Linked DNA regions of Homo sapiens: regions 1 and 3 are each linked to region 2. Evidence: fine-mapped expression QTL. A gene starts in region 2. Each other region holds a variant in brackets. All regions are shown on one strand. Distances are between the middles of the regions.

Region 1 (2,763 bases), 37 kb before region 2:
CTGGCCAACCTGGTAAAACCCCGTCTCTACTAAAAATACAAAAATTAGCTGGGTGTGGTGGTGGGCGACTGTAATCCCAGCTACTCAGAAGGCTGAGGCAGGAGAATTGCTTGAGAGGCAGGCGGGGGTTGCAGTGAGCTGAGATCGCGCCATTGCACTCCAGCCTGGGCGACAAGAGTGAAATTCTGTCTCAAAAATAAATAAATAAATAAAACTAAAAATAAAAATCTGCTCGTGTCATTTCTCAGTGAGAAGCCTTGCTACTGCACTGAGGATGAAATCCAAATCCATTACCACAAACTGCAGAGCCCAGCATGACCTGACCTGCCCATCTCCCCACCGCCGTTCCCTCCTTTCCTTCTGTTCCTTGAGTATGTCTGTGGTATAAGAAGAAATAGATGTGGTTTTTGTCCTCTGTTCCTGGAGAACAGAGCTCCTAAAACTTGTGGAATTTCCTAAGTGACAGAAGCATCTTTTGTCATTCATGAAGAGTCAGTTGATTACACCAGACTACATGCTAACGAGGTGACTCAGGGTGGAGCTCCTACGTGGCCTCAGGATGCAGACAGCCACCAGAAACACCAAGTGAAGACAGGGCTGGAACCTGCAGTCCCACTTGTGGACCTCCAGGAAGGGGAGGGAGGGCTGGAGATTGAGCTCTATAAAAATTCCTCTTCTTTTTTTTTATTTTTTTGAGGCAGGATCTTGCTCTGTTGCCCAGGCTGAAGTGTAGTGGCCAATCTTGGCTCACTGCAACCTCCACCTCCTGGGATCAAGAAATCCTTTCACTTTGCCTCTCGAGTAGCTGGGACTACAGGATCACACCACCATGCCTGGCTAATTTTTTGTAGAGACAGGGTTCTGCCATGTTATCCAGGCTGGTCTTCTTGAAGTCCTGGCCTCAAGCAATCTGCCTGCTTTGGCCTCCCAAAGTGCTAGGATTACAGATGTGAGCCATCATGCCCAGCCACTATTTTTCTTTTCTAAAAAAAAAGTTTTAAGCTGGGTGTGGTGGCTCATGCCTGTAATCCCAGCACTTTTGGGAGGCTGAGGCAGGTGGATCACAAGCTCAGGAGTTTGAGACCAGCCTGACCAACATGATGAAACCCTGTCTCTACTAAAAATACAAAAATTAGCCGGGCATGGTGGCACCCACCTGTAATCCCAGCTACTCAGGAGGCTGAGGCAGGAGAATTGCTTGAACCCAGGAGGTGGAGGTTGCAGTGAGCTGAGATCACGCCATTGCACTCCAGCCTGGGCAGCAGAGCAAGACACTATCTCAAAAAAAAAAAAGTTTTAATATTGAATTTATAAAATGTTTTTAGTATATAAATATTGACAGAACAGACTTCTTTCTACTTGAATATTTTACCTCGGTGTATATAAACATTCAATAAATACCAAATACCTAGAGTG[T/C]AGCCCTTGTGCCATGCTATTAACAGTACACTGAAAAAGAGAAGCAGAGTCTGTTCCTGCTGTCAAGGGGATGATAATACGATTATGGTTTTAGCTGAAGCTACAAATGGAGATAAGACCTATGGCTAACCATAGGTCAAGGCATCATAAGGACAACATTTTTGAATGCTGAATCTTTTAAGTTAAATCAGCAAAGATCGGCTGGGTGTGTTGGCTCACGCCTGTAGATCTCAGCACTTTGGGAGGCCAAGGCAGAGGGATTCACCTGAGGTCGGGAGTTCCAGACTAGTCTGGCCAACATGGCAAAACTCTGTCTCTACTAAACATCCAAAAATTAGCCAGGCATGGTGGTAGGTGCCTGTAATCCCAGCTACTCGGGAAGCTGAGACAGGAGAATAGCTTGAACCCAGGAGGTGGAGGCAGTGGTGAACCAAGATTGCACCACCGCACTCCAGCCTGGGTGACAGAGTGAGATTCTGTCGAAAATAAATAAATCGGCAAAAATAAAAATTCCTAATTTCAGAATCAGAAGTTTCTGCCCTCACCATGGGAAGAAATGCCCAGGCTAGCCTGATAGCAAGACGATGAAATGTGTGAGCCAAAACTGCCCAGATGGGAAGCTCAGTGAGGCCCAACCACAGTCAGCCAACTCCCCCATTTGCCTCTAGACATGTGGGTTTAATAAATGCTACGACTGTCTGCCACTGAGATACTGATGTTGTCTGCCACAAAGCATGTATTAGCGATAGCTAATGGTACAGCCACCTCAACTAAGGCAGGATTACTTTAAAATATGATACATTCTGCAGTTTTCCCCAACTCTGTTATATATCTTATAAGACACAAATTGCAGCATAATCCTATATAAATGAAATGGATATTTCACGTTAGGGTCTAAGGCCAGGAATTGATCTACTCTCAAGCATAAGATTAAGTGAACCCAGATGAAAAACTATATTCCCAAGATAATACATTTGTATCTTAAATGTAGGTCTCTTCCTTACCTTTTAGTTTGTTGACTTCAATCTTAAGTGCCTTCAATTTCTGCTTATAATCTTGCTTTTCTTTCACAATACAAGTCTCCGCCATCTTGGCATCACGTAGGGCATGCTCTAGCATTTTAAATTTACCCGAACAATCTGCAATGTGATTAACTGCCTCAATAATATCTTTGTCCTAAAAACCAAATTTGAAAATGGTTATCCTAGATTCTTAAATTCCAATTAACCAAGAAGAAAAGATAACACTAAGATCTTATCGTGTGCCAGGTTCCACTCTAAGCATTTTTCGCATATGAATTCATTTAATCTTTACAGTAACTCTATGAGGGTGGTACTATTGTTCTTG
Region 2 (2,763 bases):
ATTCACTACTCAGGCCCCAGCACCTAAAACATCACTAGGCACACAGTAAGTTCTGAGAAATATTTACTGAAAAAATATTTACTTGCCCTTTTACTGTCCTGTATCTTCAGATTTTTCTGAAAGTTTCCAAGATGCGAATACATACAGCATTTACAATTCACAAATATTTCTATATTGAAAATGAAGAAAAACACTCGAAAGTGAAAAAGATCTTGATTAAACCTAATACATATATCATGATTCAAACCAAGAAGACTTTCCTCACTGTCCTACCACCCAACACTCCAACCTCACCTTCTCCCACTCCTTAACGGGCCACCCTCCCTATACGATACACCAGACAAACTCAAAGCTGCTCACTTCTTCACAGACAGCCATCAAGCTTTTTCTTACATAGTCGTGCGCTTTGTCTGGGACGCCGTTCCCCACCTTCTCATCCAGTCCTTGCCATCCTTAACTCATAATCTTCCAAGAAGCCCTCCTTTGACAGCTAGACTAGCATACACCTTGAGGACCTTCAGGCTGAAATAACCTAGTTGCACATCCTGTTACAAATGGACTGTAAGCTTCTTCAGGCAGAGTAGCCAGACACAAATCACCCAGGTGGGGAAACTCTGTTAATTCATGCCTCCTCCTCCCCAGGACTCCTCTCCCCCAGTACAAACTCACCAAATGAAAAGGATGGGGAAGAAAGCTTACCAAATGTCAAACTGTTATTACAATGCATAAAAGTATAGTGAGTAAAAGTCATTCTGTGGCTACCAACACTTGCCTCCACAATAAAGGACTCGAAGTGGGTAATCGGCATCTAACTTGGCACTGTTCCTTGGGTCTCCTTTGCAGTCAGCCCCGCTGGATTCAGAAATGTCAGCAGCCATTTCACAAACCTGTAAGCAAGGAAAATAACACACCCTCACTATTTTAGAATCAAGACCCCAGAAGAGCAGTGTTCCTCTCAACAGAAACCTCCCCACCCCAAAGCTGTTTCAAGTCTGTTGTTGAGTGGGGGATACAAGCTGCATTCGATTCATAAAATATGAGCAATCCCAGGCACAACATCTCCTTGCTCCACAGGTCTACAGGGAAGCAAGCAGCAAATGGACCATGAAGGATGGGGCAGAGGGACTCACTAGAGAAAAACAGGAAGCAATGGGGAAGGAAAGATGGGGTGAGTACCCACGGCAGACACGGAGCAAAAAGGTCTGAGGGTGATCTGGGAGGGATGCAAACTGCAGTGAGAGAAGGGCTACAAAGGCGCCGAATGGAGAGAGGCTGGAAGTGCCTAGGAACAAGGGGTGGGTCATCGGAGAAGCCCGGGGTGCAGGGTGTGGGGGCAACTAAACGCCATGAGAGGGGCCTGGGGAGTCTAAAAAGGGCATGGGAGGGGGCGGGGTAACCAGAGCGTAAGAAGGATGAGGAGAGAAAACGAGCGCAGAATGTAAGAGCACTGAGGGGACAAGGGCGACCAGGTCTGAGGCGAAGGAGCAACCCCGGGGACGCCAGAAGGGGCCCTTGTGGGCGGGGGTGTGGAGAGGCCCGGCCCGGCCCCCTTCCGCCAGGCAGCATCTCAGCTTCCCCCACACTCTCTACGAGCTTCTCGGGAGCGGGAGAAGCACTTGGGGTCGTTACCCAGGCGGTCGCACAGGCCCCGCCGGCTCCGCTCCCGCCGCTATCGCCAGCTGAACCAACACATGCAACTCGTCTCCCCGGCCAGGGCCGCCCGAGCGCCCGACCGCCAGCAGCGCTCCCGCGAGACAATGAGCCTTTATCGCGAGATTCCGGCCGCCGCTGGGCGGATGTCGCGAGAAGCCGGAAGACGGGGGCGGAGAAAAATTGCGGAGCGTGCGCCTTGCCCTCCGGTGGGGGGCGTGGCCAAGAGGCCGAGAGGCGGGCCGCCGGCAGGCGGTGCTCGTCACCCGTTGGAGAGGATGAATCCTCGAGATGGGCGTGCCGAAGGGAACGTGACTTGCAGACGCAGAGAGCGCACCTGAGTCACAAATGACTCCCTATTAATGAGTCCGAGGATCATCGCCTCGGTGTCTGCGGTGCATCCTGGAGTCCTGACTAACCTCCAGCTACTGCATAAATCACTCCCGTGCGGGGAGATTGCAGCCGGATAGAGCGTTTGGTCGCATTTTAACACCATGCACTGAATTAAAGGAAGGTGTTCTCCCTCCCTCCCTCCCTCCCTTCCTTCTTTCCTTCCTCTCTTCTTTTCTCTCTCTCTTCGCCGGATGGAGCGTTTGGTTGCGTTTTAACACCATACACTAAATTAAAGGAATTCTTTTTTCTTTCTTTTCTGTTCTTTCTTTTCTTTCTTCTTTCTCTTCTTTCTGTCTCTTTCTTCCCCTTCCCTCCCTCCCTCCCTTCCTTCCTTCTTTCCTTCCTTCCTCCCTCCCTTCCTTCCTTCCTCCCTCCCTTCCTTCATCCTTTTCTTTATGTTTTGACAGGGTCTCACTCTGTCACCTAGGCTGGATGGAGTGCAGTTGCACAAACACGGTTCACTGCAGCCTCGACCTCCCAAGTAGTTGGGAATACAGGCGCGCGTTACCACACCCAGCTAATTTTTAATTTGTTTATAGAGGTGGGGGAATCTCCCTATGCTGTCCAGGCTGGTCTCGAACTCCCGGACTCAAGGGATCCTCCCGCCTCCGCCTCCCAAAGTGCTGGGATTACAGGCGTGAGCCACCGCGCCCGGCCTACAATTTTTTTTAATGAAAAAAAGAAAAATGTAAGAGTATGGGAATATATGGGGAAAAGAAA
Region 3 (2,763 bases), 63 kb before region 2:
CTGAGACCGCCTGTGGCAGATGCTGGGTGCTGCAGCCAGGGTGCCAAGGTGGAGAAGGGTCCTGAGGCGTTCACAGTGAGCAGGAGTCATGGACGCAGTCACCTGTTGGCTACCTGACGTGCACTCTGATGGAGGCAGATACACACACACACACGCATGCATGCACACACACACATGTGCAGGCACACACACACAGAGCTACACTAGCAGGACAAAAATGAGGGAGTGATTGATTATATCTCAGGAATTTGACATAAAACCCTAACAAAGAGGTTGAGAGAACAACCTGAAGCCACGAGGACAAGGAGGAGACATCTGTTGCTATAATGCTTGTTTGGAAAACGTGAATTTGGGCCAGGCATAGTGGCTCACGCCTGTAATCCCAGCACATTGGGAGGCCAAGTTGGGAGGATCACTTGAGGTCAGGAGTTTGAGACCAGCCTGGCCAACATGGTGAAACTCTGTCTACTAAAAATACAAAAAATTAACCAGGCATGGTGGCTCACACCTGTAATCCCAGCTACTCAGGAGGCTGAGGCAAGAGAATCGCTTGAACCCAGGAAGTGGAGGAAAGAGTGAAACTCCATCTCAAAAATAAAATAAAAATAAAAAAATAGGCCAGGCATGGTGGCTCATGCCTGTAATCCCAGCACTTTGGGAGGCCGAGGCGGGTGGATCACAAGGTCAGGAGATCAAGACCATCCTGGCTAGCATGGTGAAACCCCATCTCTACTAAAAATCCAAAAAAAAAAAAAAATTAGCTAGGCGTGGTGGCGGGTGCCTGTAGTCCCAGCTACTTGGGAGGCTGGGGCAGGAGAATAGTGTGAACCCGGAAGGTGGAGCTTGCAGTGAGCCAAGATCATACCACTGCACTCCAGCCTGGGTGACAGAGCAAGACTCTGTCTCAAAACAATAAATAAATAAATAAATAAAATTTAAAAATAAAAATAAACTGGCATGTAATCTTTATTCCATCAAAGTTCATGGATCCCATGAATTCTAGTCAACAAATTCTGATTAAAATTATCTGTCCAACAAATCCATAGAGACAGAAAGTAGATTGTGGTAACCAGTGGCTGTGGATGTGGGGTCTCCTTTTGGGGTGATTAAAATATTCTAGAATTAGATAGCGGTAGTGGCTGCACGATTTTATTAATATGATTT[A/T]AAAAAAACCACCAAATTGTACACTTTAGAAGGGTGAATTGTATGTAAATAATAAAATGTGAATTCTGTCTCTCTTTTTGATATAGGGTCTCACTCTGTCACCCAGGCTGGAATGCAGTGGCAAGATCATGGCTCACCACAGTCTTGACCTCCCAGGATCAAGTGATCCTCCTACCTCAGCCTCCTGAGTTGCTGGAACTACTGGTGCATGGCAGTGTGTCCAGCTAATTAAAAAAAATTTTTTATTTTGTAGAGGTGGGGTTTTTCAATGTTGCCCAGAGTGGTCTCAAACTCCTTGGCTCAAGTGATCCATCTGCTTTGGCCTCCCAAAGTGCTGGGATTACAGGCATTAGCCACCATGGCTGGCCTATATCTCAATTAAAAAAATGTATTTTAAAGAAATAGCTGCCAAAGAATGACTAGAAAAGTCATAAAGGTTCTCCCCAGACACAGGGGAAGAAGCAGCCTCACTGCATACATTTAAAGGGATAGCTAAGCACCAAAATAGTTTTGTCATTAAAAACCTTCCTCTGCCCCAATATAAATGCAACGCTTCACTAATGCCTCAGAGACAGCTTGTGAAGAAGAAATCTTCCTAGGAAACACCAGAGTCCATCACGGTTTCCACTTTGAAAAGTTTATATGGCACACATGGTATACTTTGAAAAATTTCTAGTTTTGGATCCTGTTCTGCTTTAAGGTAATCTCTGCAACTACCTGTTTAGGCTCATGGCAGTGAGCATCTTGATTCTAAAATGATTAATGTTCTAGTTTTGGATCTATTCGCGGCACATAGAAACTGCTCCAGGGAACTCTGAATCTAACAAAATACCAATCTGAAGGACTAAGCAAGAATTGCCATCAGAGAGCATTTCGTGAAATAAGGCAAAGATGTTTGCTCCCCTGCTTCTATTCAACACTCATCTGGAGGTCCTAGCCAGAGCAGTAAGGGAAGAAAATGAAATAAGGCATAAATATTGGAAAAAGGAATAAAACTGTCTCTATTCATGAATGACATGATTGTGTAGAAAATCCTAAGGAATCTACAAAAAAACTACTAGAATAGGCTGGGTGTGGTGGCTCACGTCTGTAATCCCAGCATTTTGGGAGGCTGAGGCGGGCGGATCACAAGGTCAGGAGATGGAGACCATCCTGGCTAACACGGTGAAAGCCCGTCTCTACCAAAAAATGCAAAAAATTAGCCGGGTGTGGTGGCGGGCGCCTGTAGTCCCAGCTACTCGGGAGGCTGAGGCAGGAGAATGGCGTGAACCCGGGAGGCGGAGCTTGCAGTGAGCCGAGATCGCGCCACTGGCACCAAGGCCTGGGCGACAGAGCGAGACTCCGTCTCAAAAAAGAAAAAAAAAAACCTGTTAAGTTGGAAGTAATCAAAATTTTAAATTTCGCTTTTTAAAAGACACTGTTAAGAAAAGCCAGGCCAGGCACAGCGGCTCACGCCTATAATCCCAGCACTTTGGGAGGCTGAGGCAGGAGGATTGCTTGAACCCAAGAGTTTGAGACCAGCCTGGGCAACATTGTGGGACCCTGTTTCTACAAAAAATAAAAACATCAGCTGGGTGTGGTTTCGTGTACGTGTAATCC

Evidence for each region.
Region 1: its variant is fine-mapped to the expression of DENR in fibroblasts (GTEx, PIP above 0.99).
Region 3: its variant is fine-mapped to the expression of DENR in whole blood (INTERVAL, PIP 0.99).

Annotation. Positions count from the first base shown.
Region 1 is chr12:122,788,587-122,791,349 of GRCh38, reverse strand. CCDC62 (coiled-coil domain containing 62) reads right to left here. Exons shown (of 13, transcript NM_201435.5): 5 at 2,421-2,592. Among named protein-coding and RNA genes, the nearest start is that of CCDC62, 15 kb to the right of the region's middle. RefSeq lists an enhancer at 894-1,447. The variant T/C (reference allele first, on the strand shown) is at 1,417.
Region 2 is chr12:122,751,817-122,754,579 of GRCh38, reverse strand. It overlaps DENR (density regulated re-initiation and release factor), which reads right to left and starts at 1,756. Exons shown (of 8, transcript NM_003677.5): 1 at 1,630-1,756; 2 at 773-887. The coding sequence starts at 878. RefSeq lists enhancers at 1,248-1,307, 2,399-2,763 and a silencer at 1,448-1,497.
Region 3 is chr12:122,815,213-122,817,975 of GRCh38, reverse strand. The region is part of intron 11 of CCDC62 (coiled-coil domain containing 62); the gene reads right to left. Among named protein-coding and RNA genes, the nearest start is that of HIP1R, 19 kb to the left of the region's middle. The variant A/T (reference allele first, on the strand shown) is at 1,165.